2 separate regions of the Homo sapiens genome follow, and region 2 is linked to region 1. The links come from fine-mapping of genetic effects on gene expression. A gene starts in region 1. The other region holds a variant in brackets. All regions are shown on one strand. Distances are from middle to middle. Region 1 holds the start of USP47 (ubiquitin specific peptidase 47). Region 2 overlaps USP47 (ubiquitin specific peptidase 47).

Evidence for each region.
Region 2: its variant is fine-mapped to the expression of USP47 in whole blood (INTERVAL, PIP 0.94).

The regions. Positions count from the first base shown.
Region 1 is chr11:11,831,922-11,847,912 of GRCh38, forward strand. It overlaps USP47 (ubiquitin specific peptidase 47), which reads left to right and starts at 10,051. Exons shown (of 28, transcript NM_001282659.2): 1 at 10,051-10,303. The coding sequence starts at 10,265. It overlaps LOC107984311 (a long non-coding RNA gene), which reads right to left and starts at 9,920. Exons shown (of 4, transcript XR_001748134.3): 1 at 9,254-9,920; 2 at 7,598-7,636. RefSeq lists enhancers at 9,127-9,992, 9,775-9,944, 9,993-10,856, 10,155-10,294.
Region 2 is chr11:11,908,706-11,924,696 of GRCh38, forward strand. It overlaps USP47 (ubiquitin specific peptidase 47), which reads left to right. Exons shown (of 28, transcript NM_001282659.2): 9 at 11,451-11,546; 10 at 11,637-11,789; 11 at 14,019-14,186. Among named protein-coding and RNA genes, the nearest start is that of USP47, 75 kb to the left of the region's middle. The variant C/A (reference allele first, on the strand shown) is at 8,364.

The sequences.
Region 1 (15,991 bases):
GAATAACTGCATAGTATTATATAGTATGAGTGTACCACAATTTACATGATCCTACTGACAAATATTTATATTATTTCTAGTTTTGCATTATTACAAACAATGCTATAATGAACATCAATACACATATGTCTTTGTACACTTGTACTGTAGGATTATCTTAGAATTGTTGGGTCAAAGAATAGGCACATTTGAAATTTTTTATATACATTGACATATTGCCTTTAAAATGTTTTTAATAACTCATATTCCACCAAATTCAAACAAGAGTTTTTATTTCCCCATAAATTTTGCTAATCTAAGAGTGAAATGTCATTTCATTGTTTTCATTTGCAGTTATTTAATTATGAGTACATTTGAGTATCTTTTCAGATATTTATTGGCAGTTTATATTTCATTTTTAATGAGGTGCTAACTTACCTTCTAAGCATGCTTCTCTTGGGTTGTTCATCTTTTCCTTATTGATTTATAAGCAGTCTTTTAAACTGAAAAAATTAGCCATTTGGCATATTTGTTGTGAATATTTTTCCAGATGATATTTTGTCTTTTGACTTTATTTATATTAATCTTTGCTATACATGAGTTAAAATTTTTTAATTACCATCTTTCCCTTTACACTTCTGGCTTTTATTTTGTTTCAAATCAATATTATTATAAAATATTCACCTTTGTATACATTATTTCTAATTCTCACAATGCTATCAAGTAATTATTACAACTCAGTCTTCACATTCTCAAGGAATATTGAGATCTCTTCAAATGACAAATTTATAAATATTACTCTACTTCAAAGACATTATGAAATCATTTCAGAAAGTTTAACACTGTGACTCCAACTTTATTTTGCTAGATTCCTTCCTATTCTTGCACCTTAAAATTTAGGCACTTGCAGACCGCAAAGAAAGTTGAGTGAATTGTGGTCAATTTATCTTTGGTTGCCTTAGGCGCTGATATTTGCCTCTCCTCCTTCAATATGTTTACCAAGGTATTTTCTGTTGATGTGAGCCTCTTTTTAATACTGTTGAATGCACTGACCTATTAACCTTTTCTTTATGAATTTCTTCAGCTTAGAAAGAGGCAAGCAAGCACTTCTGTGGCAATGATTTTTATCTTTATAAAATGTCAATAGAAAAATGCTACTTTAGGTCACAGAACCAATCTTTTTTTTGAGGTCACAGTGGGTTAAGAGCCCCACAAATGTCCTCACTCGCTTACCTCATGAAAATATTTATACAAATGTTCCTAGGTTTCTCCCAGATTACATTTTCCTGAGCATCATTTTTTCTATTCTCATCTTCACACCAAAAGTTAGTCATCTTTTCAATATTCAGTGGTTTTTAACTTAATTGATGAGCTTTTTTTCCTTAGTGGATGCACTCATTTAAATAGTTTCCCAAATTACTTTTTCTTGTTTCCTTATTGATGGTGTCTTTTCCATCATAAATATAAGCCATTGACTAATTTTACATCCCACTCTTTAACTTAGACAGAAGGCCTATTTTGTGGCTAAGATCCATCACTTTAATAATTTCTTCAATCTCATTACTAATAATTGAGTTTCTTTTCAGAGCCATTTTCCACAAAGAAAATTCATGGAAGAACTACATAAGTGGAGAAGAGTAGGCAGAAATGAGACTACGTCAAAGTGTAGTTGCCGTATGATTAACAAGACTTACTCACTAGCTAAGTGACTAGTTTATTTATTCAACATGAATTTAAAAGCACCTACTATATGCCAGGTACTGTGAGGGTTGTGCATTCCCTCATGAAACTCAGTCTATTGCTAGGATAATTATAGCCAGCATATATTGATTGCTTAGTATTTGTCAGGTAGTGTATGTTGAGTGCTTTAAACAGTTTATATGCATTTCCTCACTTGTAAGATGGGGATATTAGAAGTACTTATGCATAAAGTTGTTGAGAGAACTGAATAAAAAATATGTGCAAAGGGGCTGGGCGCAGTGGTTCACACCTGTAATCCCAGCACTTTGGGAGACCAAGGCAGGCGGATCACGAGATCAGGAGCTCGAGACCAGCCTGATCAACATGGTAAAACCCTGTCTCTACTAAAAATACAAAAATTAGCCGGACATGGTGGCGCGTGCCTGTAATCCCAGCTACTCAGGAGGCTGAGGCAGGAGAATCGCTTGAACCTGGGAGGCGGAGGTTGCAGTGAGCCGAGATTGTGCCACTGCACTACAGCCTGGCCAAAAGGAGACTGTCGCAGACAAAAAAAAAAAAAAAAGCAAAGGATCTAGAGCAGGGCTCAATCTATATATTCAACCAATTTTTTTTTTTTTTTTTGAGACAGGGTCTCTCTCGTCACCCAGGCTGGAGTCCAGTTGTGTGATCTCGGCTCACTTCAGCCTCGACCTCCCAGGCTCAAGGGATCCTCCCACTTCAGCTTCCTGTGTAGCTGAGACTACAGGGGTGCACCACACCCGGCTAATTTTTTATTTTTTTGTAGAGATGGGGTCTCCCGATGTGGCCTAGGCTTGTCTTGAACTCCTGGGCTCAAGTGATCCTCTTGCGGCAGCTTCCCAAAGTGCTGGGATTACAGGCGTTAGCCACTATGCCTGTCTATTCAACCAATCTCTTTTTTTTTTGAGAGTTTCACTCTTTTGCCCAGGCTGGAGTGCAATGGTGCAGTCTCAGCACACTGCAGCTCACTCAGCCCCGCCCCAGGTTCAAATGATTTTCCTATTTCAGCCTCCTGAGTAGCTGGTATCATAGGCGCCCGTAACCATGTCCGGCTAATTTTTTTTTTTTTTTAGTAGAGATGGGGTTTCACAATGTTGGCCAGGCTGGTCTTGAACTCCTGACCTCAGGTGATCCACCTGCCTTGGCCCCCTAAAGTGCTAGGATTACAGGCGTGAGCCACCGCACCCGGCCTCAACCAATCTTAACTGCTGTAGTTTTGTGATTATTATTACTTTCTTTACTAGTTACTATAACAACCTTGTGAAGAGAGGCTGTTATCATCCCCATTTTACAGATAAGAAAACTGAAGCTTGGTGGATTTAAGAGATCTACCCAAGGCATGTCACACAGTTAATAATAATAGAGGTAGGATTCAAATTCAAATAATGTATTTTCAGCTTACTCTTTCAACCACTTAGCTCTTTGGTCTTCTGTACTCTGGCTAACGTATAAAGTTCAAATTTCCTTTCTATCACAATTACGCTACATGTCATGGACTTTTCCAGTCAACATGGCAAATGTTAAACTGATAAATGCCAAGGGTCTACTTTATTGCCCCCATTTTATAGTTGAGAAAATGGAGGTTCAGACAGGTCTTATATGGAGGAAGTGGCAGAGTTTGGATTTCAAAACAGGTAAATCTGGCTCCAAAGCCACATTACACTGACTAAAGATTTTCTCCTTAACCTTATTAAAACATAGTCATGGTGAAATTTTCCTTTCATTTTTATAATACACATTTAACCTTCTATTTTCACTGGTTCTTAAATTGTATAATGTGACTTTGACTACATGCTTAGACTTGTGCAGTGAAGAGTCTTGAAATATAAAAGAAAGAAAATAAAATCTTAAGTATTGCCATGAACATTTAAAAATATACCTTTTATTTTGGAATAATTTTATGCTTTCAAGGAAGTTACAAAGATAGGACAAAGAGTCTGTATATACCTCCTCCACTTTCCCCCACTGCTTATATCTTGCATTACCACATTACACTTATAAAAACTAAGAAACTATCAGCAATGAACAAGTGGAATTTGAAATATAAAACACATTACCATTTACATTAGAACCCCCCAAAATCATACTTACATATAAATCTAACCAAATATGGATGATATATATATATATATATATATATATATATATATATATATATATATGGAAAGTGACAAAACTCTAATGAAAGCTATCAAAGAACTAAATAAAGGAAGAGATATTCCATGTTCATGGATAGGAAGACTCAAAATTGTCAAGATGTCAGTTTTTCTCAACTTGATCTACAGATTCAGTGCAATCTCAATCACAATTCTGGCAAGTTATTTTGAGGATATTGACAAACTGATTCTGAAGTTTATATAGGGAGGCAAAAGACCCAGAATAGCCAACTCAATATTGAAGAAGAACAAAGTCAAAGGGCTGACTTCCAGACTTACTTTAAAGCTACAGTAGTCAAGACAGTGTGGCATTGGTGAAAGAATAGACAAACAGATTAATGGAACATAATAGAGAGCCCAGAAATAGACCCACGTAAATATAGGCAACTAATCTTTGACAAAGGAGCAAAGGCAATATAATGGAGAAAAAAGTCTTTTCAACAAATGGTGCTGGAACAATTTTATGTTCACATGCAAAGAAACAAATCTAGCCACGGACCTTATACTGTTCACAAAAATGAACTCAAAATGGATCATAGACCTAAATGTAAACTTTAAAACTATAACACTCCTAGATGATAACAAAGGAGAAAACCTAGATGACTTTGCGTTTGGTGATAACTTTTCAGATACACCACCACAGACATGATCCATGAAATAAGTAATTGATAAGCTGGGCTTTGTTAAAATTAAAAATTTCTGCTGTGTGACAGACAATGTCAAGAGAATGAGAAGACGAGGCACCGATAGGGAGAAAATGTTTACAAATGACACATCTGATAAAGAACTGTTATCCAAAATATACCAAGAACTATTAAAAGTCAATAATAAGAAAATGAACAACCCAATTAAAAAAATGGGCAAAAGACCCGAACAGACACCTTACCAAAGAAGATAAGTATATGAAAAGATGTTCAACACCATATGTCATTAGGGAATTGCAAATTAAAACAAGGAGAGATACCACTATACATGTATTAGAATGGTCAAAATCAAAACTCTGATGATGTCAAATACTGGCAAAGATGTGATGGAGTAACGGGAACTCTCATTCATGGATGGTGGGAATGAAAAATGGCACAACCACTTTGGAATGTTTAGTTTTGTAAAACTATGCAGTTTTGTTTTTTTTTTTACAAAACTATGTAAAAAACAATGTAAACAAACTATGTAAAAAAACTATGTAAAACATGCAGTTTTTTTGTTTTTGTTTTTTTTACAAAACTAAAAATACCCTTATTGTGCAATCTATCAGTCATGCTCTTTGGTACTTACCAAAATGAATTGAAAATTTACACATACACAAAAATGTGCATATAGATGGTTGTATTTACTTTATTGGTAATTGCCAAAACTTGGAAGCAACTAAGATGTCTTTCAGTAGGTGAATGGATAAATGAACTGTGGTACATCCAGATGATCGAATATTATTCAGTGCTAAAAGGAAATGAACTATCAAGCCATGAAAAAACATGGAGGAAACTTAAATGCATATTACTAGAAGAAATAGCCAATTTGAAAAGCCCACATACCATGATTCCAACACTCTGGAAAAGGTAAACCTATGAAGACAGTAAAAAGATCAGTGAATGCCAGGAGTTAGGAGAGACAGAGGGATTAATAGGCAGAACACAGCAGATTTTGAGGGCGGTGAAACTATTCTGTATTATACTGCAATGGTGGATATATATCATTATATATTTATCAAAACACATGGAATGTACAACACCAAGAACGAACCCTAATGTAAACTATGGACTTTGGATGATAATGATATATCAATGTAGGTTCATCAGTTGTAACAAATGTACCACTGTGGTGGCAGCTGTCAATAGTGGAGAGGGTGTGTGTGTAGGGACAGTGGGTGTATGAGAACTCTCTGTGCTTTCAGCTCAATTTTGCTGTAAACCTAAAATTGCTCTAAAAAATAAAGTTTAATTACAATTTCTTCTCATTTACTATTTAAATATAGTCTTTGCTGTGAATAATAAAAACAAAGGCTGGGCACGGTGGCTTATGCCTGTAATCCCAGCACTTTGGGAGGTCGAGCGGGTGGATCACCTGAGGTCAGGAGTTCGAGACCAGCCTGGCCAACATGGTGAAACCCTGTCTTTACTAAAAACAAAAATCTGCTGGGCGTGGTGGTATGCACCCGTAATCCCAGCTACTCAGGAGGCTGAGGCAGGAGAATCGCTTCAACCCAGGAGGCAGAGGTTGCAGTGAGCCAAGATCACACCACTGCACTCCAGCCTGGGCAACAAGAGCAAAACTCCATCTCAATAATAATAATAATAATAATAATAAAGTGTATTAAATTTTTTAAAAACATTTTAAAAACTAAGAAATGAATATTAGTACATAAATATTAACCAAATACACATTTTATTTGAGTTTTACCATTTTTTTTTGTTAACGGCTTCTTCCTGTTTCAGGATCCAATTCAGAGTGCCACATTGCATTTACTTGTCATATTTCCTCAGTTTCCTCTGGTCTATGACAGTGTCTCAGTTTTTCATTGTTTTTCATGACCTTAACAGTCTTGAGGAATACTGACCAGGCATCCTGTAGAATGTCCTCCAAACTGGGTTTGTGTGATTTTTTTTCATACTTTGACTGGGGTTATACTATGAACATTTTCATTTGAAAAGGAAAAGGAAAATATTCCCAAAGAAATTATAAGAAAAATCATCAGCCTCTGACCTACACCAGTCTTGGCATTTGGTTTTTGTTTTTAATTCAACACCAATTTATTAATGACCTACTATGTGCTAGGCATTGTTCTAGACATTGAGGATGCATTATGGACAACCAGTTTAGATTGGATTATCATAAAAGGCCTTTTCGAAGATTTAACATTTGAGAAGCCCAAATGACAAGATTGAACTAGATAAGAGAAAAGATCTACGGGAAGAATATTTCAGGGAAAGGAAATAACTACTACAAAGGCTTTGGGGCAGAGACAAACTTTATGTGTTTAAAAAGCTCAATAAAGGCAAAGTGGCTGGGTCATTGGGCGTAAGAGGAAGAGTGGCAGATGACTGGAGCAAGACAGATGGGTTTGATTACATTGGATCTCACAGGCTATAGCAAAGAATATGAATTTTATTCTAAGAGGGATGAGATGTCTTTGGAAGATTTGGAAGGGATATGACATATTTTTGAAAGATCACTCTGGTTGCTCTATGGAATATGGATTGTTGAGGGATAAGATTAGAAACAGGAACCCAGTTAGGAGGTAACTGCAGTAGTACAGGCAAAAGAATAAAGTAATTGGAGTGGGATGTGCAGTAGTAGATAGAAGGAAAAGTGGATGGATTTGAGATGTGTTTCAGAGGTGGAAGCAACAGCCCATATGAAGGGATTGAATGTAAGATGAAGAGTGTCAGGTTTTTGGTTTGATAAACTGAATTGATGACAGTGTAATTTATCAAGGTGGAGAAGAACTGATAGAGGATATGTTGCAGGAGGTAGGGGAGGCTTGGAAATCAAATGTTCTGTTCAGGTCAAGTTTAAATTTGGGAGGTATTGAGCCATTAAAAAGGTAGATATATGAGTTTACAGCCTATAGGAGAGGTGAGGACAAGGGACGTAACATTTACATATAAAGTAAATAAACACATATCCATGTAATCTCAGTAATAATATATTAGGAAGAGTAGCCATATATTTGTATTTGTCCATTTATTCATTAATCAATTCATGAATCCACATACTTATTCCACAAATATTCATTGTATACTTACCATCTTATCAGGCTCTCCTGCAATAGTCAAGCCAGTGGCCTATAAAGAAAAGAGTGTGCAATCAGAAAAGGGGGATTGTAGGAAGAAAATGTTAGACTTTCTTTTTATATTTATTTTAATCTAAAAACGCAAAATTAAATCTTACTTATATTGAATATATAAACACCAGCATCTCACTACTCCTGAGTGAGAAGTGTGAGTTCTGCAATGTAGAGAATTCAGAGATTCCTTCATTTTCTTTTAGTATGTTGTCACTTATTCCAGTTTATGTGGGCTGGGTTAAGTAGATTTATCAATTACATTCTTATTTCATTATATCAACCTTTACTAAAATGAAAGTGACTAAAAAGGATTTCTGGAAAGACAACATGAGTTTGAAATAATATTGCAAGCATAAGCAAAAAAGATGACAGAGATGACATTTTTACTTCTAGGGTGAGCACTACAGCACTGGCCAGCACTACAGAAGACACCTTACTAAGTCATGGGATGACATTTTGAAAATAAAAGTTTGGAAATATTTCCATCATGTGATTTTGATGCAAAAATGATATATGTGAGCCACCCAAGTCTGGGACTATGGTGAAGCAAATGGTTTTCAAGGTGAAAACCGTTCACCTTGGGCACAAAATTTAAGGGGGGGGTGCCAAAAATTCAATAATCAAGACAACTAATCTTAATACAATATTTTAAAAAGTCAAAATTTATCTTAATCAATCCATGATAATCAAAATATCAAAACCTTAAAGACAAGATCTATAACTCCCAAAACTCATACATGAATACTTAAAACTTGAAGATAGAAATTTTCAACTTCTTAAAAATCTTCTAAGCAATTTATTCCAAAGAGCTTTGAACCCATTTGTAAAAATATAAAAATGCAACATCTTCTGGTTGACATCAGGAAAGATGGAACACTACTAGCTGAATTTCAATAAAAACCTTTGCATGGTTGTTGGATGGAATGGATAAAAATGAAACTTTTTTCATATCAGTTTTTTTTTTTAAATCGTTCTAAACATGCATTAGGAAGAGTGGCCAAAGATGTACTTCCTCCTTTAGGATCTACATCTTTGTGAGTTACCTTTTTTTCAGCTTATGACAGCCATTAAAACCAAGTACAAAAATAACCTGACGTTCAATCAGATATTTTAATAACTATTTCACGAAGTATTAAAGATTTTTAAAACTAACGAAACCTAGTCAATCATATTGATTTCCTTAAATATTTTTAGTGAGAATAACAAAGATTTTTATACCATTAATATGGAAAATAACTAAGTTATTTTAAATGTTTATGTCATCTTTGTCTTAGCCTTTTTACATTTTACAAATGTTTTATAATTCTGCACACAGCAGGACACGTATAAAACTTATATAAGTATATGGATTTTTTTTTGGTAACGGGATTACAATAAAAAAAAGTTTGGAGAACACAAGTGCAGGCAGTTAATGCTGTGGGTGTTAGGAACATGACAAGATTATATTATCTCAGCATGCTGTAAGATCACTGTATCCATAAAAGTCTTCATGAAGGAGCCCCGCCGAGTCTCCATAATGGAAGCAGGATTTGGAGAAATGACTTCTGCAAACTTTGTTTAGTATAACACAAAGCACCATGCTTACTACTAGAGAAGATTAAAATTCTCTAAAAACCTTGTTAACGGAGATCACAGGTTGAAGCATACTGCAGCTCTACTCTTGGAAGGCTAGCTCAGTCTCAGACTTGGCCCTGATGGAGAAGGAAGTTCCCTGGAAGAGGGCAGGGGAGCGCCTCTCCAATGTAGTTGCGGGGGGCGGGCGGTGAGGACACCGCTTCATAAGGGAAGGGGTGGCTGCCTCCCCAAGCAGGGGGTGGCCCCTGAGGTCCCTCCAGCTGGGGGCCCTTGAGAGGGAGGGTGGGGAGAGGGGAAAAGAACGTCAGGAGAGTGAACGGGAGCAAATAAAACGCTGTCCATTCTGACTGGAAGGGCCAGAGCCGTGTCTAAGGGCGGGGGCCGGGAGGTGGCCCGCGGTGGTGTCTCTACCAGGACGAGGCCTGGGGTATCTGAAGAGGGGATGACGTCCAGGCGCTTTGCTAAAGGGAAGCCAGAAGGGTATGAGTTGCTAGGGTCAGAGATGGGGCTTTCGGCTCGAGTCTTTCCCTGCAGGGCAGAGAGTCCGAAGAGCCCGAGAAGGCAGGGAGGACAGTGGGCCTGGTCCTTCCCCGGCCGGCAGAGGGAGTCCCGAGATGGAACGTCCAGCTCTCCTCTAACGAAAAGCGTTTGCATGGCTGTCTCGCCAATTCTGTACCTCCCGGGGCTGAGGAAGAGCCGAGGTGACTAGAAGCTAGCGACAAGTGCCGGCCACCTCCGACGCCAGGCGCCGGGCTTGGAGCCCGACGGGCCGAATTCTCGCGAGAGCGGCCGCCGCCATTTTTCCATTGATTGCAGCGGGCTGGGGGAGGGGCCGACGACGAAGGCGGCTGTGGTAGCGGCGGCGGCGGCGGCGGAGCCCTGGGTCGGTGTCTGCGCGCTGGTGTCTGAGGCCCAGGCTGAGGCCTCCGCTATTGCTGGAGCGCAGGCGGCGGAGAGGATGACTGCCGCTGCCATTCTCTCTTGAGCTAGCGAGCCGCCGCCACCCTCCACCCTCCCCCGGCAGGGCGGAGAGGAGCGGCCGGAGTCAGCGATGGTGCCCGGCGAGGAGAACCAACTGGTCCCGAAAGAGGTGAGGGGCCCCAGAGGAGGTTAGGCCTTAGGCCTGCGGCCGCTCGAGGCAACACAGGCCCGGGCCGGGGTTCGGCTGCGGGCCCGGCCGGGGTGCAGGCTCGGCTGTGGGGGAATGAGGAGGCGTGAGGCAGTCGGGGGTGGACGGTGGGTGCGGCGAGCAGTTGGGAGACCCGCTGGCTCTAGGGGCCGGGGAGCGGACCTCCCGCCTCGGGTTTTATGGGGCTGGACGAATAAAGGAGCGGACGGGAAAGAATCAGGTTCTGCTCTAGGGGAGAAGGTGGCCTTTTAAGTTCTTGTTTAACGTGTGGAGCCGGGAGAGATCATTTCAAAGAAAACATTCTGGAACAGTTGCCTATGGGCACGGCAGGGTGACGGTGCTGCTTCTGGGTTTGACAGTGGCAGCGTATAGCTTTCAGCGCTTGTGAAATCTACACCCAAGTGAGATCTGTGGGAGGGCAGACTTAACTGTTACGACTTTTTTCAACTCCTGTTACTTGGTAGTACTATTGGCCTGCCTAAATGGGGCCTACCGAAGATCGTGGAAAAGTAGTACATGGGACATTAATGTAAAGGAAGGAGATAGGAGAACATTACCACATGGAGAGCTGAACTCTTTTTTTTTTTTTTTTTTTTTGAGGTTGGGTTGTGTATGCCAATTTGAGTGACTTCTTAAATTCTTAAAAGCAAGTGATACGAGAAGCCTTGACTACTTGGCTTCTCTTGAATAGTAGTAGAAGATTTAGGGTAGAATCCAGCACTGGCCAGCGAATTTCAACGTATTAATAGTATCTCTGTTGGCTTTATAAATATCTTCGGCGTATTCAAATGTGTATTTTTAACTGGCTGATCATCAGGCTAATGCTTTGGATTTTTATTTCTCATATACCTTAAATAGAGACAAGTGTTGGATTGAAATTAACTGTGTGCGATCTTGAAATTAATGAGTGATCATTACAGATTCTTAAATTTTTTTGTGCCTGTTTTACTTGTTTTGTAGCAATTCTTTGTTACTTAAGCAAGCTCTGACAGTATGCAAGGGTGATATTATTGGAGTTATGTACCTGTATGATACAAGTATTTTCCCAGCTTTGTCAGAAGGGCAGTGATAGTTGTTTTGCAAGGACGATTTTTGTAAAAGGCAGAGAGTTATGTGTCAGTATTTGTTCATCAAGCGTCACCAACTCTGTGCAAAGCAGATAAACAGATGAGTTAATCAGAATTCTTGCCTTGGGAACTTTCTGAGCTACTAAGAAAGGGAACACTAGTGTTTGTTGAACTCCAATTAGGGACTAGGTACTTTACCACGTAAGTAATTCTTATGCAAGGAAGGAAGTGATAGGTGCTGTAAGAAAGGTATAAATGTGTATTTCATTTTAGAGCTTCATATTGCTGGTTTTCATTTTTATAAAAAACAAAATTCTTTCTTAATTTTTTGACCATTAGAAAAATATCATATAGGTGGAACTCTGCTTTAAGAAAACCCAACATTAGATTTATTTCCCTAATAACTTGATTTATAGAAAACATGATATGATAATAGATACCGAGCTTTGCAGAAACATCTGTTGTGTAAAAAGTGATAACAGCAACGGAAGTTTAAAGATTAAATGCCTGTCCTTTTAAGATTAATTCCCTTCCCTGAGGCTTTAAATTCATCACAACTTATGTTTTTTCCCTTTCTTCTTTTTATGGACCATATGCCTTTATTGTCTATTCCTTAGTCTCATCTTCAGTCTTCTTTTTCCCTGGTTCCTTTCATGATTCCTGGAAGCATGATCTGTGGTTCTTACCTTTTATAGCTAGCCAACTAGCTTTTTCTTCTTTGATGGCCACACTCATTCTTTATTAAAGTGATTGCCTCCAGTTCCATATTTGCTTCTGGATTACTGGAAACTTTTTCTGAAAATCACCAGTTATCTCTTAAATGACCAAATTCTTTGACTTTTTTTTTCTTGCCTCTTCTGCTGTTCGAATTCTCTGCAGGATCTGATAGTTTTTTTAAAAAAACAATTTCTTGATTTTAGTGATACTCCACTTTTCTGGTCATTTTCCCACCTGTTTGTCCTATCTGCCCACTCATTTAGTCAAGGCCTTTCTCTTCTTTTTTGTATTCTTAATTGGCACTTTTGTGTGATCCTTGAAGCTCCGGGACAGGTCCTTTTAAACAGTAGTAGAATCATACAGTGCTAGAGCTAAGAGAAAGCATAATCATCATCTAAGTTACCCCTCCACTTTACAGTTAAGGGAGTTAGGCCCAGAAGATTGAAAGTGACTTGTTCAGGGTCAAATAATGAGTAAATGGCAGACCTAGTGCTAGAACTCACTTCCTTTGCTACTATTCCCTTGATTATACCCTATTTTACAGAGCCCTACATGTAATTTAGAGGCTCTGTAAGAATAGTTTGTAACTCTCTAAGTACATATATATGTGAAAATAAATGGCAAATTAAAAAATTTCATGCATTTATTTTAATGGCTTATTATCAATAATCTAAAGATTTTTTTTTTTTGAGGGCCTTTGTATAGGGAACCTCTGACCCCTGCTAGATTTAGATCTTGGTTAGATGTGGGCATGTGTGCGTGCGTGTGTTGGAGTGTATAGTTGTTCAGTGAATAATATATTTTGGTCCCTGAAACTCAAGGACAAATGTACCTTTAGAGGACTCTTGAAGAAGACAGCTTAGTGTAGTACAGGCATTGGCAAACCACGGCCTGTGGTCCAGATCAGTTCACAGCCTGGTTTTGTATGGCCTGTGAGTTAAGAATGAGTTTTACATTTTCGAATTGTTGAAGAAAAAAAGTCAAAAGAATTATAATAGTCTGTGACACATGAAAATAATGTGTAATTCAAATTTTAGTCTTGAAACAGCTATGCCATTTATTTAGTATTTTGTATGGCTACAACAGCAGAGATGAGTAGTTGCTACAGAGACTCTATGCAGGATAAATTTGAAATTACTTAGCTTGGTATTCAAGGCCCAGTACCATTGATTCTGGCCACAACCTGTCCTTCCAGCTTATCTCTTCTCCCATGAAACAGGTTTTTAATGTAGTCAAACAGGTTTCTCTCTAACTTGCATTTCACTTCTGTTTGTGCTGCCCCCTCCTTCCTGTTCAAAACCTTCATACACATTTTTCCATAAGTACCTCATATCTCATTTATGCTAAATAGCCTTTTCTGACCATTTTAACCTTAGAGATTTCTCCCTCTTAGAAGACCTTTATATAGGAATAGAATTCATTTGGCAATTACTAGATGGTGCTTGGCGACATCTATTATGATCTGAAACTGTAATCTACATTTTATATATTATTTGTTGTGAATTCCTTGACAGCAAAGACTTGGTATGTTTCTCTGTCTTTGCTTTTTGTTTTTGTAGGTTTTGTACTATAGGTTTAAGACAGTGTCTTTCCTGGAGCAGATATTCAGTAAATATTCGTTGATGTGGTGACAGAGTTGTAAGTAAATTTAGCATTCTAACCAATTATCCTGTCCTTGGAGGTTTTCCACAGCATCATTGGCAAGCTATTTGCCAACTTTTGCTTTAATACATACTTCTATGACTAATCTTTGATAAAATCTTTGTCTTAGAAGAGATCTGTTATTTTTAAGTTTTTGAGTTGAGAGAAGTCTAGATCTCTATAGCTGCCATCTTTTGATAGTTGCCTTACAGAAATGTTAAAGCATTTCCCATAGGATAGTTTTTCTCATCATTGAAGATGGGAGAGGGTAGCCTGAGAACTGACCTTTTCTGTTCTGAGTCTGAGCTTCCTCAGTTCTTTAACTGTTTCTTAGTTCCTCTCTTTTGGACATAATCTGGGGTTTTTAGTATTCCTCCTAAATTGTTGTACCCAGAAAGAGCAAAGAGAGTGGTATCTCTTCATTGTGGTGAAGAACAGAGCTTTTCACCCGTTTCATTCTGCCGTATGTCTTTGAATTGTAGTATATTGATTTCTGCTTTGAGGTCTCTTTTAATAGCATCCCAATTTTAATTATTGTTTGGTTGCTATTTTGTTATTCTGTTTTCTTATAAGGATGTGTGTCATTAATATTCATTGAGTACTCACTGTGCATATTACTGTATTCTGCCAAATAGGAAAAACTTAGAATAGAAAAATTTGTTCTTCTCTCAAGTGTCTTATAGAATGATCAAGGATAAGGTGCATATTTACTGATGCTTTAAAAATAATACTTAAACTGCAGTACTTAAAGTAGTGCTCATGGACTCTAAATCCAGAGAAAATGGAAAAAATGAAGGAAAAAGAGTAGAAATGTAAATTCTTTATCTCTGGGTTTTTTTCTCCTGTCTTTCATGCAATCACTACTTCTGTCTGGAACTGGTTTTGGCATCTAATGATGATGATGATAGTAATAACCAGTATTTATTGAGCATTTATTTATATACCAGATACTGTTGGTTGTGCTTTGTATTAACTCATTTGAGCTTCACAGCAACCTCAGAGTACATAAGACACATTGATAGCAAAAACAACTTATTTTTATTTCTATTGTCTGACTTCTTATAAAATCCATTCATCAGTATCTATTATGGAACATGTCAAATGCATATTCTTTTAATTTTATTTCTCCTAATTAAATTACCTGAGGAAATGTGCTGCAATTGTCATTCTTGATTTTAGTGATTCTTTTAAAATGAGGCTTTTTCTTAAATTTCAGATGTTGACTCTCTCTTACCAGTAAGAGACAAGTTTGTCAAGTTATACCCGCCAGCGTTTTAAACAAATTGGAGTGTTTAATAAAAGTCAGTATTTTAGATATCATTGGAAATGCTCATTTAATGAATGAAAGCAAAAGCTGAATGCAGAATTGTATATGATTCTAATTTTGTCCAGGAAAAAATGAACAATTTAGGGTTAAATGCGTTGAAAGATTAGAAGGAATACACTAAAATATTAAGAGTTGCTATTTCTGAATTTCTGGATTATTGGGATATATATTTAGACTTTCATATTTAAAAATGAGCATGTACATTATTTTCAAAAACAGAAATTGAGATGATCTGATTGTAGTTTTGGGGGTATTTACATAGTGTTTTTTTTTTTTGTGCTCACAGTTTTCCTATTTCCCCTCTCCTCTTACTCTGTATATTTGTCTTGAGTAATCGGATCCACTTGTATAGCTTCAACCTTTGATTGTGATTTACACATTTATATCTCCAGCCCTGACCCCTTCTAGATTCAGATTTCCACTGTTCTGGATATCTGTACTTGGTTGTACTCTAGGACCCACAAATTAAATATAGGTAATATCGAACTTATTTCTCCTTCCCTTCTCACAACCCAATTCTTGGTGTTCTCCTGTTTCAGTTAGTGTTATCGCCATCTATTTATATGCTTAAGTTAGAACAGTTTTTGACTCCTCTCTTTTCCTTTTTCTCACATATAGTTCACCACTTAGAAAATGTCTCTGTATCCTTATCTTTCTCTCCATGGCTCTGCCTTTGTCTAATTATTGTTATTTTCTCCAATGTGTAGCCTTTCTAATTGGTCAGTCTGCTTCCAAGGCCTTTCCTTTCTTAACCATCCTCCCCACAACTGCCAGGGTTACTTTCTAAAACAGATGAGATTAAGATTTACCTGTTTTAAAGTTTATAATTATTACCCTCTGATTGCAATTTGAATGATAGGTACTATTTGTAAACAGTATGTGCTAGACACTATGCTA
Region 2 (15,991 bases), 77 kb after region 1:
TTATTATAATAATTTCTTTTTTCAATAGATTTTTAGTTATTGTAACTGATATTTGTTAGATTTCTGATCTTCATTTTACTCATCCAAGTACGGAATCAATATTGAAAGGCTCTTCTGCCATTCTGTATATCTCAGATTGAGTTCTGTTCAATACTAGTCTGTAAAAGGATTTAGTAGATATTTTGGGGAAGGTGTCCTTGATTAAATAGATTTGGGAAACTATAACAATAATCCTCTTTGGAAATATCACAGTGCATATTATATTTTAAATGCCCCAGTGATTCCTGTAGTTGAGAAGTTTGTTTAAATGTGTTTAACCTAGCATTTTCTTTCTCTGTGGGACATCTGTTAATATCTCAAGAGACATTAGGATTCTGAGGAACATAATATGGGAAGCTCTACATTAGATTAAGGTGATTTAAGAATGTCACTACTTTGTTTATATTTGTGTCCTTGGGATGTTGAGAGGGAGTGAGAATACTAAAATATGTGTTATAATTTCCTGTTGTTTTACATATTTTTTATTAATCCTGAAAAATTAATATCAGCTGAAGAATTACTTGTAGTAATCTTTAAATAATTTTGCTCTTAATGACTTATTAGATAGTTAGAACCTTCTATGTTCACTGACTAGATCAAAGTAACTTTGACTATGCTTATTGCCAACCCCATGTGAGAATGTATTAAATAAGGAGATAGTTCTAAGTATATTCTAGTAATACATAGAAATTAGAAATATTAACTTTTTGTTTGTTAATTATGAAAGCATAATTTATAAATTAAAGAAAAACAATGTAGCCTCATGTTTGACATTATCTAAGGAAGTGCTTTTTTATTTAACAGTAAAATTTTAGACACTGTCTTTTTATTGGTGTATTTTGTCATACAACATTTATTTAGGGCCTACTCTATGGCAGACACTGTTCTAGGCCATTTTCTTTTAGGATACTTTTATTCTATTGTTCATTACGTACATTTAAATACCTGTTTATTATGACAAAAACGTGTTCAAAGTTTGATCAGGGTTTAGCTGCATAATTTCATACAGTGCCTTTGGAGAAATAAGATTATATAAAAGACTTGTTTCCTAAGTAAACATAGTTTAATGATTGTTTTAAAGTTTTGAATGGAAAATTGTGAAATTAGTAAGTGTGAAATCAAAAGCATTTCAACTATTTACACAAGTTTATATTATAAGTCTTACCCTGACATAACAGGTGGTTTGGACATTCTTACATGGGTGACTCAGCCACAGAACTCATTTGGGTGAAGCAGTGGTCCAAATTTGTCCAAATATGTAAGCATCAGTTAAAGAAAAATCTCTTCCACAGACTCTACCCTCATTTTTCCAGGAATGTGTATGGTTGGACATAGTGGGAACAAGTTTAAAAAGTGGGGACTTCTGCTTTCAGGAAGATGGAGTAGATGTACATTGCCCTATTCCTCCCACTAAAACAACTGAAAACCTTGAGCATTATATGTAAAATAAACATAAGAAGACTGAAAGGTGGAGAGAAGGCATACACACTAGGGACCTCAGCACCCAAGGAATAACACGGTGGTGAGTTCCATGGGTTTTCTTTTTGCCTAATATATCCCAGGCTTGGAACTGAAGAAGCTGGCAGCCTGGAAACAGCAATGGGTACAGACTGAAAAACCCTGTTCTCTTTAACTGAAGGACGAGGAAAAAGACAGCCTAGCAAGCCAGAAAACTTTTAGACCATAACTGCTGTGCTCTAACCAAACACCACAGAAAGAAAAGGCCTTACATCAACTTGTGCCTGCCAGTGCTGAGTGGGGAGCCTAGATTCTCTGTTCCTTCACCACCTCCCAGGGGTAAAGAGGCGAGCCCCTCCTGCTTGTGTCAGTGTTGGGGTGTAGTACTGAGATACTCCTGCCCTTTACAGCCAAGGTTATATCAGCAGAGGCCTACTGAATACCCAGAATTCCTTTCCCTGCGCAGCACTAACAAGGAGCTTCCTCCATTCAGATGTCCACATAGGCCAAGTGGGAAACCTGGACTTCTAATGCCATCTGGCACTAATATGGCAGAGCCCTTTCCCCAGATGGTACAGTGTCAAAGGAGGCATTTAAACTAGAAGGTTTAAATATGGTCCAGAATCTCATAACACCCCAAATGTCCAGGTTTCAATTAAAAAATCACAAATCTCAGTTTGAGTTAAAAAAGAAAACCAGTAGACATAAACACTGAAATGACAAAGATGTTAGAATTATTTGATAAATATTTTAAAGCAGCCATCATAGAAACACTTCAGTGAGCAGTCCTAAGCACACTGAAAACAATGAAAATTTTAGGGAATCAGTTAGAGATACAAAGAAATGAAAATTTGGAACTGAAAACTGCAATAAGCAAAATTAAAAACCCAGTGGATAGGCTGAACAGCTGAATGAAAGAGACAGTAGGTCGAATCTGTGAACTTGAAGATAGAATGATAGATATTACCCAGTCTAAACAGCAGAGAGAAGATAGACTGAAAAAAATATATATCCTCAAGGACTTATGGGACTATAACAAAAGGTTTAGCACTGTGTCATTGGAATACTGGAAGGAGAGCAAAGGTGTAACACTTGTGTCATTAAAGTCCTGAAAGGAGATTAATAAGGAAAAAGAAGGCAGGCACAAAGAAATAATGGATGAAAATGTTCCAAATTTAGCAAAAGGCATAAACCTACAGATCTGAGTAGCTGAGCAAACCCCAAACACAATAAGCCAAAATAAATCAGGAATGGCCATATTAGTGTCAGATAAAGAAGACTTTAGAGCAAAGAAAATTACCACAGACAGAGAGGGCTGTTACATTGTAATAAAAGTGTCAAACAACCGAGAAGACAACAATCCTAAATGTGTATGCAGAAAATAACACAGCTGCCAAAATACATGAAGGAAAAACTGTCATAACTAAAAGGAAAAAGACAAATCTACAATTACAGTTGCAGACTTCAGCACGCCTCCCTCTCTTACTGATAGGTAGAACAACTAGACAGAAATAGCAAAGAGGTAGAACTCAGCAACACCATCAACCAACAGATCTAATGAACATTGCTAAAGTGCTTCACCCAACAGCAGCAGAATACACATCCTTTTCAAGTATCCATTAAATATATACGAGGATAGACCATATGCTCTGGACCATAAGACCTCAAAAAATTTAAAATCATGGAATGTGTGATTTTTTTCAACAACAGTGGAATCAGATTAGCAGACAGGAATATCACAAAACACTTGGGAAATAACACTTCTAAATGATCCATGGGTCAAAGAGGAAGTCTCAAGGGAAATTTTAAAAATATTTTGAACTTAATGAAAAGTAAAACATAACGAATTTTTTTGAGGCACAACTAAAGCAATACCGAGAGGGAAACTCACAGTATTAAATGCTTATACTAAAAGACAGGAAAAGGGCCAAATCAGAAATCTAAGCTTCCACCTAACCTGAAAAAAGAAGAGCAAAAGAAACCCAAAGCAAGCGGAAGGAAGGACATAATAAAGAAAAGCCGAGAAATCAGTAACATTGAACATGAGAAAACAGTAGAGGAAGTCAACAAAACAAAGGGCTGGCTCTTTGAAAAGACAATAAAATTGACAAATAGCAAGACTGACAGAGAAAAAGGGAAGGCAAAAATTTCCAGTATCAGGAATGAAAAGGATATAACTATAGATCTTGCAGATATCAAAGGGATCACAACAAACAACTCTGCACATATAAATTTGACAACTTAGATAAAACGAACCAATTCTTTGAAAAGAACTCAATAGGAATTAGATAATTTGAATAGTCCTGTAACTGTTAAGGTAATTACATTTATAATTTAAAACCTCTTGAAAGGAAATCTCCAAATCTTGATTGTTTCACTGGATACTTGTATCAAACATTCGAAGAACAGTGAACACCAGGTCTGTACAATTTCTTTTCAAAAAAAAAGAAAGGAAGAGGAGGAAACCCATAGTCCTGTGACACTATTCTTACCTGATATTAAACCAAGACAGTTCTTAAAAAAAACAGTATCCCTTATATGTGTAGTTGGTAAAATTCTTTCCAAAATATTAGCAAATGGAATTAAGCAATTTATAAAAAGAATTATATATTGTGACTAGGATTGATTTCCGGGATTCAAGACTGGTCAGTATTTTAAAAATCAATGAGTATAATCTTCCATATTAACGAGCCAAAAAAGAAAATTCATATGATCATATCGATTTAGAAAAGGTGCTTAATAAAATTCAAAATTCACTTATAATAACTCAGATTACTAGGAATAGAGGGAAATTTCCTCAACTTGATTAAAAAACGTATCTAAAATATCTATAGCTAACATCATACTTCATTGTGAGAGACTGCTTTCTTCCTAGGGAATGGCACGCTTGTCTAGGCAAGGATGTCTGCTCCTACCACTCCTTTTCAGCATAGTCCTAGAAGTCCTAGCCAACACAGTAAGGTAAGAAGAGGAAATGAAAAGCACTACTAAAGGAAGAAATAAAATTGTCTGTATTTTTAGGTGATATGATTATCTATGTAGAAAATCCCTTGTACAAAAAAAAAAAAAAAAAAACAACACCTGAACTAATACGTGAGTTTAGCAAGGTAGCAGGATAAAAATAACATAAAAAATAAATTGTATTTCAAGATACTAACAATGAACATGTAGAAAGTGAAGTTTAAAATACAATACCATTTATAATTTTGCAAAAAGAAAAAAGATGGAAATCCAACAAAAAATGTACTGGACCTATGTGTTCAAAACTACAAAACTTTGAAAAGATTATGTTAAATAAGCTAGGACCAGAAAGACAGATATTACATGTTCTCATTTACATGTGGGAACTAAAAATAAAGCTGATCTCATGAAGGTAGAGAGTAGAATGGTAGTTACCAGAGGCTGGGAACAGTGTGTTTGAGAGAGGCGGGGATAAAGACAGGTTGGTTAATAGGTACAAACATACAGTTAGATAGAATCAGTAAGTTCTAGTGTTTGAGAGCAGATTAGAGTGACTATAGTTAACAATATATTGTGTATTTCAAAATAGCTAGAATAGAAGATTTTAAATGTTCCCAATACAAAGAAATGGTAAATGTTCAAGGTGATGGATATCCTAAATAGCTTGACTTGATTCTATGCATGTATCAAGTATCACATGTACTTCATAAATATTTACAGTATTATGTGTCAAAAAAACTTTGAAAAGAATAAATGGAGAAACATACTGTACTTATTAATTGGAAGATTCAATATAGTAAAGATAATTACATAGTCTTAATGCAGTTCCTGTCAAAGTCCAGCAAGATTTTTTGAGGACATATACAAGCTTATTCCAAAATGTATATGGAAGCCTAAGAAACTAGAATAGCTAAGAGTTTTCAAAAATAAAAATAAAGTGGAAGTTACCAGTCTACATGATTTGGAATGGAATACTACTTAGCCAAAAAGACTTATTATATGGCTATAGTAATCAAGACTATGTGATATTGGTAGAGGGGTAGGCAAATAGATCCGTGGAGTAGAATAGAAAACCCAGAAATAGATCCACACAAATATGCCTAATTATTGACTGAGACACAAAAGCAAGTCAATGGAGGAAAAATGGTGTTTCCAACAAATGGTGATGGAACAACTGGACATCCATATCACAAAAATGAACCTTGACTTAAATGACTTTATACAAAAATTAACTCAAAATGGGTCATAAACTTAAATGTAAAATGTAAGACTATGTAACTTTTAGAAAAAACATAGGAGAAAGTCTTCCAGATCTGGGCTAAGCAAAGAGTTTTTAGATTTGCTACCAAAAGTACAGTCTACAAAAGGGACAATTAGCAAACATTAAAATTAAAAATATTTACTCTCTGAAAGCCCATATGATAAAGAGAATCTCCAGACATATTTGCAAGCTGTCTATCTGACAAAGGACTCATATCTAGAATATATAAAGTACTCTCAAGACATCAGTTTAGAAAAATTCATCTAGACAATTGGCAAAAGACATAACATTTCATTAAAGAGGATATACAAATGTCAAATACAGAAAAGATACTCAACATTGCTGGCTATTAGGGAAATGCAAATTCAAACCATAATGAATATATTATTCTTTACCTGCCAGATGGCTACAAATAATGACAGCATGGAAATCTGGTGACTATGTGGAGAAACTGTATCACACATACACTGCTGGTGGGAATGTGAAATGTTATGGGTAGTTTCTTATAAAATGACACGTGCAGTTACCATAAACTCTAGCAATTGAACTATTGGTCATTTATCCCAGAAAAATTGAAATTTATGTTTACATGAAAACCTGTGCACAAATATTTATTCCATCTTTGTTTTTAATATTCAAAACTGGAATCAGCCCATATCTGCTTCAGTAAGTGAATGGTTTAACAAACTGTGGTTCATACAAACCATGAAATAGTACTTAGCAATAAAAAGGAACAAACTATTAATAAACACAAAAACTTGAAAGAATATCCAGGGAATTATTCCGAGTGAAAAAAGCCAATCTCAAAAGGTTATTACATACTTTATGATTCCATTTATGTAATACTTTTGATATGACAACCTTTTAGAACTGTGGGACAGATTAACCATTACCAGGTCTTACGGATTTGGTGGGAGCAGGGAGAGGAGAAGCAGGTGGTTGTGGCTATAAGAGGGTGGCACAAGTTATCCTTGCATAGGAACTGTTCAGTCTTTTGACGGGTGTTGAATATATGAACCTCTACAGGTGATAGAATTGTATGGAACTTAATAGACACATATACACAGGCAAATGAGTGCACTAAAGCTGGGAAAATCTGAATTAGATAGGTGTATGAATGCCAATATCATGGTTATGATATGCCATAGTTTTGCAAAATGTTTCCAGTAAACTGGGGGAAGTGTACAAGAGGTCTCTGTATGTTATTTCTTACGATTGCATATGAATTTACAATTATCTCAAAAGTTTCAATGAAAAAAAAAGTAGACAGCTTAGGTAAAAGTATATAGGCCTTTTCCTAGTTAAAAAGTAGTAATGTTAAAGTATATATTCGGGAAAGACAGTTGAATATATTTTTAAGGAAAACATCATGTTCCTGTATATCAGTAGTACCAAAATTGCTTAGTACATCAAAATCAGGAAATAATTCTCAGTGGTGGATCTACTTTCTTTTTTTGTTCATGTAAAAATTGAAGTATGGTGTTTTAACACTCATTTCTCTATTCAAAATTAAGTAGATTTTAATTGATGAATAATTCATATGTACACATAAATGGTTAAAAAAAGGATTTATAGGCAATACCATTCCTTGCATATACCTTTTGATTGCACTGTGCCTGGATTATTTGCATTAGCTCTAAAATTGGAATAACCCGTATTGTTTTTGATTGGAGAACTAAGGATGTAAGAATTCTTTATATTCTATCCTGAATTCTGAAAATTATAGTGTAAAAGGATGTGCAGGCTGGGCATGGTGGCTCACGCCTGTAATCCTAGCACTTCGGGAGGTCAAGGCAGAGGATTGCCTGAGCTTAGGAGTTTGAGACCAGCCTGGGCAACGTGGTGAGATCCTGTCTCAAATAAGTAAATAAAAAGATGTGCAGAATTACATTTTGCATAATATATGGGGAGCAGTAAGATCTAGAATATGAAACTGTTGTCACTCTGGAATTATCAACATGGTACTCTGACTGAATTAAATATTCTCAAATGAGCAGAACAAAACCTGGTATCCAAAAACTTAAGCAAAGAAATAGATTTAAAAAACAAAAACAATGCTGTAAGAAATGAAGTGGGAATTCATCAAATTCAGGAAAGAAACAGAAGAAAAAGACAAAAATATCTTAGAAGTGAAGAATAAATTAAAAAATGCTCAAGAGAAAATAGAAAGAAGATCTAATGAAGGACATTGAATGGAAATGAGATTTTTGTAAAAGTAAAAAGGATCTCAGAAAAAAAAAATTGAAAGAGAAGACCAGCAAAGGGTGTCCAACATAATTGGAGTCTGTGAAGAAGAAAAATAAAACAGTGGACCAGAACTAATAGATAAACTGTAATTCAGAGAAAGTTTCTGGGAATAAGGGAAATGTCAAGTCTACCTTTTGAAGGACCTGGAATGATAAACTCTGAGATGTATTTTAGTAAACTATTAAAGATGAATTGAGGCCAGTCACAGTGGCTCATGCCTGTAATTCCAGCATTTTGAGAGGCTGAGGCAGGAGGATCCCTTGAACCCAGGAGTTTGAGACCAGTTTGGGCAACATATTGAGACCATGTCTCTACAAAAAAATAAAAAATCAGTTATCAGTTGTGGTGGAATGTGCCTGTGGTCCTAACTATTCAGGAGGCTGAGGTAAGAGAATTG[C/A]TTGAGCCAGGGATTTCAAAGCTGCAGTGAGCCAGCACACCACTGCATTCCAGCCTGGATGACAGAGCAAGACCTCATCTGAAAAAAAAGATGAATTGGGTTGGCATCATATTTCAGAAGAACAACATGCAAATCCTGCCAACAGAGTAGCAATTTCCAGAAATTCAAGAAAGTACCAGCCAAGGATTTGATAGCCAGGCAAGTGTTTCTTAATTATGACAGCTATAAAAAGACAAGTTTGAATATTCAGGAACTCATTGGGTATTATATCCATGAGCCATTGAGGAGTTCATTAGAGGATGAGCTTAACCCAACCAAGAGATCACGGGCAGCTTCGGCAAAAGAACTGTGAGCACTTACTATATTAAATTAAGGCCTAAATACAAGGGTGGGAACACGGGAACAGCAGAGTAGTATGTAATGTTACATGTTAGACAAAGTACAAATAATACCACTTTTTAGAAGGGGGAGAGAAAGGGAGAGCAGAATAAGATCACAGACTGTTGTGTGGGTGGGGAATAAAGGAGACCATTTAAAACTGGCAGACACTGAAAGCTTAAGAAAGAGTAAACAGGGTGGGGGTGGGTGGGAAAAAAAGAGGTCCAAGGACACTAACAAAACTATAAATGCAAAAGTAACTGTAGAATAAAATTACAAACCTTGCTAAATACCAAAAGAAAATGTAAAAAATAACAAAGGAACACAATAAATATTACCTAACACACACAGTAATTACACAGTAGTGACTGAGATAGGACCAAGCATACCAGTCATATCAAATATGAGTGGGCTTAAATTGCCTATTAAAAAGATTTTCAAGTTGGTTCAGAAAGCAAACATTAAAATTTGATTTAGGCAGGAATCTGTAAGTGGATGTTAAAATCAAGGGTGGAAGATTTGGTAAGGCTCAGGATTTTTGCATGGTCTCCAAGTATCTCCTTACAGATTGCTTATTAGCCGCGAGAGTAAAAATAATAACTATATGGTAGAGAGACTGGACAATACCTTGACCAGATAATTAAAGCTAATATCACCAAAGAGAAAGTTAGGTACATCATGGCCTGTGACTATGCTACCCTTAGAAGGGCACATCTTTGCTAATGTCATAGTAGCCTAGCAAGGAATGTATAAATCTAATAATGAAGAACATCAGACAAACCCAAATTGCAGAACATTTTATAAAATAAGTGGCCTCTGTTCTTCAAAAAATATCAGTGTTATGAAAGAAAGGCAAACTCTGGAATGCCTCGAGATTAAAGGAATCTCAAGAGACCAAACAAAATCTGTGGCCTTGAGACAGATTGTGTACTAGATGGAGAGAAATACATTGTTAAGGTAATTGACAGAATTGGAATATGGCTGATGAAAGTACTTTATCAGTATTAAATTTTCCAGAGTTTGATTACTGTTTGTGTAAGAATATCTTTATTCTTAAAAAGTCATATTGAAGTTAAGAGGCAAAGCATGATGAGGTGTGAACCTACTCTCAAATGGCTAAAACAAAGATACATAATAATGTTGGGTTGGGCGAGGGAAAGCAAAATTGGCAAAAATGTTTAAAAGTTGATGAATATGAGTAAAGTATTTGAGAGTTCTCTGTTCTTTAAACTTTTCTCCAAGTTTTAATTTTTTTTAAAGATCTCTAGGTATTAACTATAAGCCGGAGACCAATACACACACACCAAAGTAGAATTTGAGTTACATAATTATCTCACTCTCCCTCTCCCCCCATCCTTTTTTGAATATTGAGTTTTTACCAGTTTAAATTACCACTATTTGGAAAGCCTGACATTTAGTATCAGTCTGTGTTAAGCTATAGATGTAATTTCTTTAAAGCTTGTTTTTCTGTTGTTTTTTATAGAACTTTCCTTTTTCCCCCAAAAATATGCCTGAGAGGGAAAAAAAATTTTTTTCTAAATGTGTCATTTGACCACCAATAAAATGCATGGTCATGTGGAAAAAAACCCAGCCGTTTGGTTTCTTCACTTGTTTCCTTGTGTTCTGAGAACAAAATAGGGGATCAGATGGGTTTAGACACCTTTGAATATCTATGTCTTTTCTTATTTTTATCTTGTTCCAAAGTGAGCTCTATCAAACAATATGTGGACAGTAGTTTTCTAAGCTTTGCCAGATATTTTGCAACTACGACCATTAAGCTCCTTTATCTTTTGAGGAACAGCTTGTCCTATATCAAAAGAAAAATATTTGAAGATACTGTCTTAATGATTCCATTTCTTTTAGTTTATGTGTAATATTATCAGTAGTTCTGCTTAGCCCATGTGTGAAGAAAAGAGAGAACATCAGATGAAATTTGAGATTATGCGTCCAATCTTATATGCTATATTAACTAATTTTTTAATCGTGAAAAACCAATTACTAAAATAAAAATTAACTTTATGCCACTGATTCTTTAACAGTATTTATATGAAGTTTCTTACTTCTGTTGTAATGCTGTATGGAGAAAAGAGAACCACGTGGTTCTACCAAATTAACAATCCAGGATCCTCATTATACATTTCCAAATGGAACAGTATCTCACACACACACAGAAGGTTGCACAGTGTTTTTCAATCTTTATAACTAGTGCAGTGGCAGATTACTGACTGATCCTAACTATGGCGATTAAGGATGCTTACATGATTTTTAAGTGTATGAAAAGTGTGAATTCTTTAGAGAACATTGATATTTACTGTACAGTTTTAAATGCTTCCTTTTATAAGAAGATTGATGCATGCAACTGCTTTTCTTAGAAGTGTGGAATTACTTTTTATCTAAGGACTGAGGATATTTTTAGAGATTATTTAGCCAAACACTGCAATGTAAAGTCAATGAAAATCAGGTTGAAATGACTGTGATACTGCAATACTAAGAAAGGCAAATCTTGTGTAGAATGAAATAATTTTTTTTGCTTAATTTTTATAGTGATAATATTATTTTACTGTTGATAATTTTCCTTGGTACATTTTGAGTTCCTAAATTTCTAACCATTCTACTTATAACTTTTAGTAATTACAGTCTTTTTTATTCAGGATTTTGTCATTAATATAATATTTTAAGTAATTATAAAACAAATTTTTTTCTAACTAGGAAGAAGCATTGCATGCATTTATTCAGCCAGAGATTCTGGATGGCCCAAATCAGTATTTTTGTGAACGTTGTAAGAAGAAGTGTGATGCACGGAAGGTAAATGCCATGTAGAGATTAATACTTAGGAATCTGAGATAATATTCCATATTCAATAGACTCTCCCCCTTTTTGTTGTTTGTTTTTTAGGGCCTTCGGTTTTTGCATTTTCCTTATCTGCTGACCTTACAGCTGAAAAGATTCGATTTTGATTATACAACCATGCATAGGATTAAACTGAATGATCGAATGACATTTCCCGAGGAACTAGATATGAGTACTTTTATTGATGTTGAAGATGAGGTAAATATTTGTTATTTTAAAGTATTTTTCATTAATCCACATTAGTCAGTCATGGTTTTGAAAGAGCTGTTTGAGGTAATAACACTGATGTCATTTGGACTGTCTTCTTGATGGAAACTTTTTCTTTCTTATTTTCTAATGTGGAATTCAATAAAATGATTTACCTTTGTATAAGCTTTTCCTGACTGCATAAATTATATTTTAAATATTCTTGTTTGATCAGAGTAACTTATGATACTCTTTGAAAAGACAATAAGGAACTCAGCTTTGGAATTATTTCTTGAAGTTGAGTGATAATCTTATATTTTATAATTTCGTCGTTATTGAAACCAGCCTGAAGGTAAGCCATACTCATGTTTCTGATCTATAATAAATGCAGACAATGCCTATGATGGAATGAATGAACCAACTGAATAGCATGGGCTTAATTTCTTGTACTTACCTACTATTTTGTATTTACTATTTGTCTGTTTTCCTTTTTTAGTTTTTTTAATTTGAAACTTTATTTAAATAATTTAAGCATGGGATTTGAAGTGACACATGATGTAATGCTTATCAATTTCTTCCCACACTTTGGCCTGCCAAAATTCTCTGGTTCTTCTATCCTTATTCAATGAAAGACTTACAATATTCCACTCTATTATTTTGGAAACTCTTCTGATTTTATTATGTGGAATACTTATAATCACTTAGGCTAATTATTTCAAAGTGATTTATTCTCAGAATTACCCTGAAGCGTTTTTTTTTTGTTTTGTTTTGTTTTGTTTTACTGGAACTGATTACTATAGTTATAAAAAATGCCTTTTCCCAGGAGTTCAAAAATAATTTTAAACATTCACTAAGTTTTATTTAGTACTATTGAGTACTATGAGGCAGTTTGGTGTAGAAGAGCACATGTTTTAGGCATAGCTAGATGTGGATTCAAATTCTTGTCCTGCTACTTGCTAGCCTCTTGACCTTGGATAATTCATAAAACCTTTTGAGCCTCATTTCCAGATGCCATAGATGAAGTAGCTGTTCATTGAATGGTAACTATGATCAATAACATTTTGAAAAGTTTAATTTAAAATAATGTCTCAGACAGTTGCGCTTAAGCTAGGAAATCTACCCAAAGTGTGCCAGACTTTGAGAGGAGACATAATCTTTGTAGGATTTCTACTCAAATAGAGATCAGTAGTAGATTGGTCTTCTGAATATGCCTAATATATTTCTCATAAAGGAAAATTTTTTCCAAAGAAGGAAAACTTATATATGAAGCTTAGTAGAAACTTCCTAGAGAATTCTAGGTTTAGTTCTTGGGACAAGAAATGTTTTGGCTCAGCTGAAGAAGTTTCAGGAATTATATCTCTTTGGACTTAGATCTATAGCTGGATTTCATCTCCATTTATCCTTGAACCTAACCTTCTTGAGAGATGAAGACTGTATATTAGATGTAGTACCTACAACAAGAGTTCCTGGCAAAAAGTTTGTGCTTATTGTATATTGCTTGGTTTCACTCAAGAACTTCTATGCAATGCCTTATACATTTCAAAAGCCTGCATCTTAGAAAATTCTCAAATTATTTAAATAAAAACATTTTTAGAGATGTATATAAAACGTTAAAGGGGGAAAGGATTGTTTGGGGGTTTCTAACAAAGAGAATTCTTCAAATTAAATTTGTGTGAATGTGGTTTAAAACCATAAAGTAGAAAAGTATAATGTGCTGTAACCATTATATTTCTACTTCCTGTAAAAAGACTATCAAGTTCTTAAGGATGAATACAATGTCTTGTTTCTCTTTCTAATTATCTGTAATACCTAACGCACTGATAAACCGAGTTGGACTTTTTGTTCAAGAAAAGAAATTATATTCTTTCCTGATTTGAGAACACCAGAAGCTCATTTTGGAGCTCAGCTTCTCTGATTTTGTGGATTTTGCTAAAAGAAATGATAATTTCAACCATTATGTTGTAACAGTAAACATAAATGAGGTTTAATAGAATTCTGAATCACTAATTTGTTGTATTAGAATTTTAAGGACATGATAGAAATGCTTTTAAAATACACTGTTGCTTGTTTAATTTTACTTAAGGTCTCAATTTTTAAGAGAAAATAAATGTACTCAAAGTAAAATATTTTTACTAATATGTTAAATTGTGTGAAAATATTAGCAGTATATAGGTACAAAGTTTTGTTGAACATATTTTCTCTGTATATGGTTTATAACTAAGATAATTATGTCTTATTAAGAAATCTCCTCAGACTGAAAGTTGCACTGACAGTGGAGCAGAAAATGAAGGTAGTTGTCACAGTGATCAGATGAGCAACGATTTCTCCAATGATGATGGTGTTGATGAAGGAATCTGTCTTGAAACCAATAGTGGAACTGAAAAGATCTCAAAATCTGGACTTGAAAAGGTACCTTTTATAGTTTGCATTTTTTAGTTGAAAGTGAGAATAATCTCTGACTTCCTATATAATTCTATAGCTGTTGTGACTGATAAAGTTATCTTTAAAAGAAACTTAATTTTTGAAAGTTAAGACTTCTCAAATATAGTTTTTTTGTACATATATATATATATATATATATATATATATATATATATATATATGACTATAATTAAACTTCAGGAAAAACTGCTTACAGGTAAGAACATTAATTTTTGGGAGACCATACTTTAAACTGTCTAAGCAAGCTGGATGGTACAGAAACGATGCCTAGTAGTCAAGAAACCAAGATTCTATTACCACCTCTGCCTTTAAGGTTGCAGCAAGTGTCTATAAATTTTGTCTGAGTTTTCCTATATAGAAAAGTAAAATGTTGGATTAGTCATTGATTTTTAAAAGTCTGGCCATGAAACACTTTATGAGACAATTAATAATAGATCTGATCTTTCTGAGTAGGGAAATGCCAAAGCCCCCTAGTCTTTCTTCCCTGTCCTGCGATAGTCCTCAAGACACTTTGAAAAATGGTATAGTTCTATGGATTATCATTTGAAAACCACAGAATTGGATAATCTCTGGGATAGGATCTTGCCCCTGTGTCAATAACTTTAAGGGTTTTTTAGACCATTTTTTTCCACATATATTCTGTTTTATTGAGGGAAAGATTATAGATAAAACGTCTTGAGCATGGTGTGAATAATAAACTCCTAATGTGAAGACTGATCACTAACTCAGGTATTACAGAGTCATTAAATATAGGGATTTTTAAGGCAATATTTAAAAATAGAGTTTTACTTTCATAAATCTGTTTTTAGACCAAGGCCATTCTTCTAATTATCACCACCACCCTTTACTTTTTAAAATTATCTGTTTCATTCAGGGCAGACAGTTGAGCAGGGATTGCTATGTAATGAATAATGTAATAAGTACATTGTAACTGAGTATAGAAACATGGCATTCTAGCAGGAGTTGGCAAACTATGGCTCAAGAGCCAAATCTGGGCCCTTGCCTGTGTTTTTACATACACTTTCATTTCATCTGCAAATAAAGACAGTATTCTTCCTTTCCCATCTGCATGCCTTTTTCTTGTCTCACTGCACTCTGTGGGACTTCCAATGCAGTGTTGAATAGAGTGGTGAGGGAGAACTTCCTTACCTTGTTTCCAATCTTCAGAGGAAAGCTTTCAGTTTCTTATCATTGAGTGTGATGTTGACTTTCAGTTTTTTATGTTCTTTTCCTACTTTGTTGAAAACTTTTATCATGAATAGGTATTGGATTTTTCCAGATTTTTTTTTCTATGTCAGTTGATATGATCATGTATGTAATTTTCTTCTTCAGCCTGAATTACATAGATTGATTTTCAAATGTTAAGCTGTCTTTGCATACCTGGAATGAATCCTGCTTTGTCATGGTGTGTGTTTCTTTTTATACTTTGTTGATTTGATTTGCTAATATTTTGCAGAGGATTTTTGCATCTGTGTTCATGAGATGCATTGATCTGTAGTTTTCCTTTCTCATAGTGTCTTTATCTGCTTTTGGTGATGTTGGGCTCATGTAATAAGTTAGGGAATGTTCCCTCTGCCTTTATTTTTGGAAGAGATTGTGGAAACTTGGTATTGTTTCTTAAATATTTGGTAGAATTCACCAGAGAAATTATCTGGGCCTGGTGCTTTCTTTTTTAGAAAGTGGTTAATTATTGATTTAATTTCTATAATAGATATAGGACTTTTCAGGTTACCTGTTTCTCCTTTGTGAGTTCTGGTGGTTTGTGATTTTTA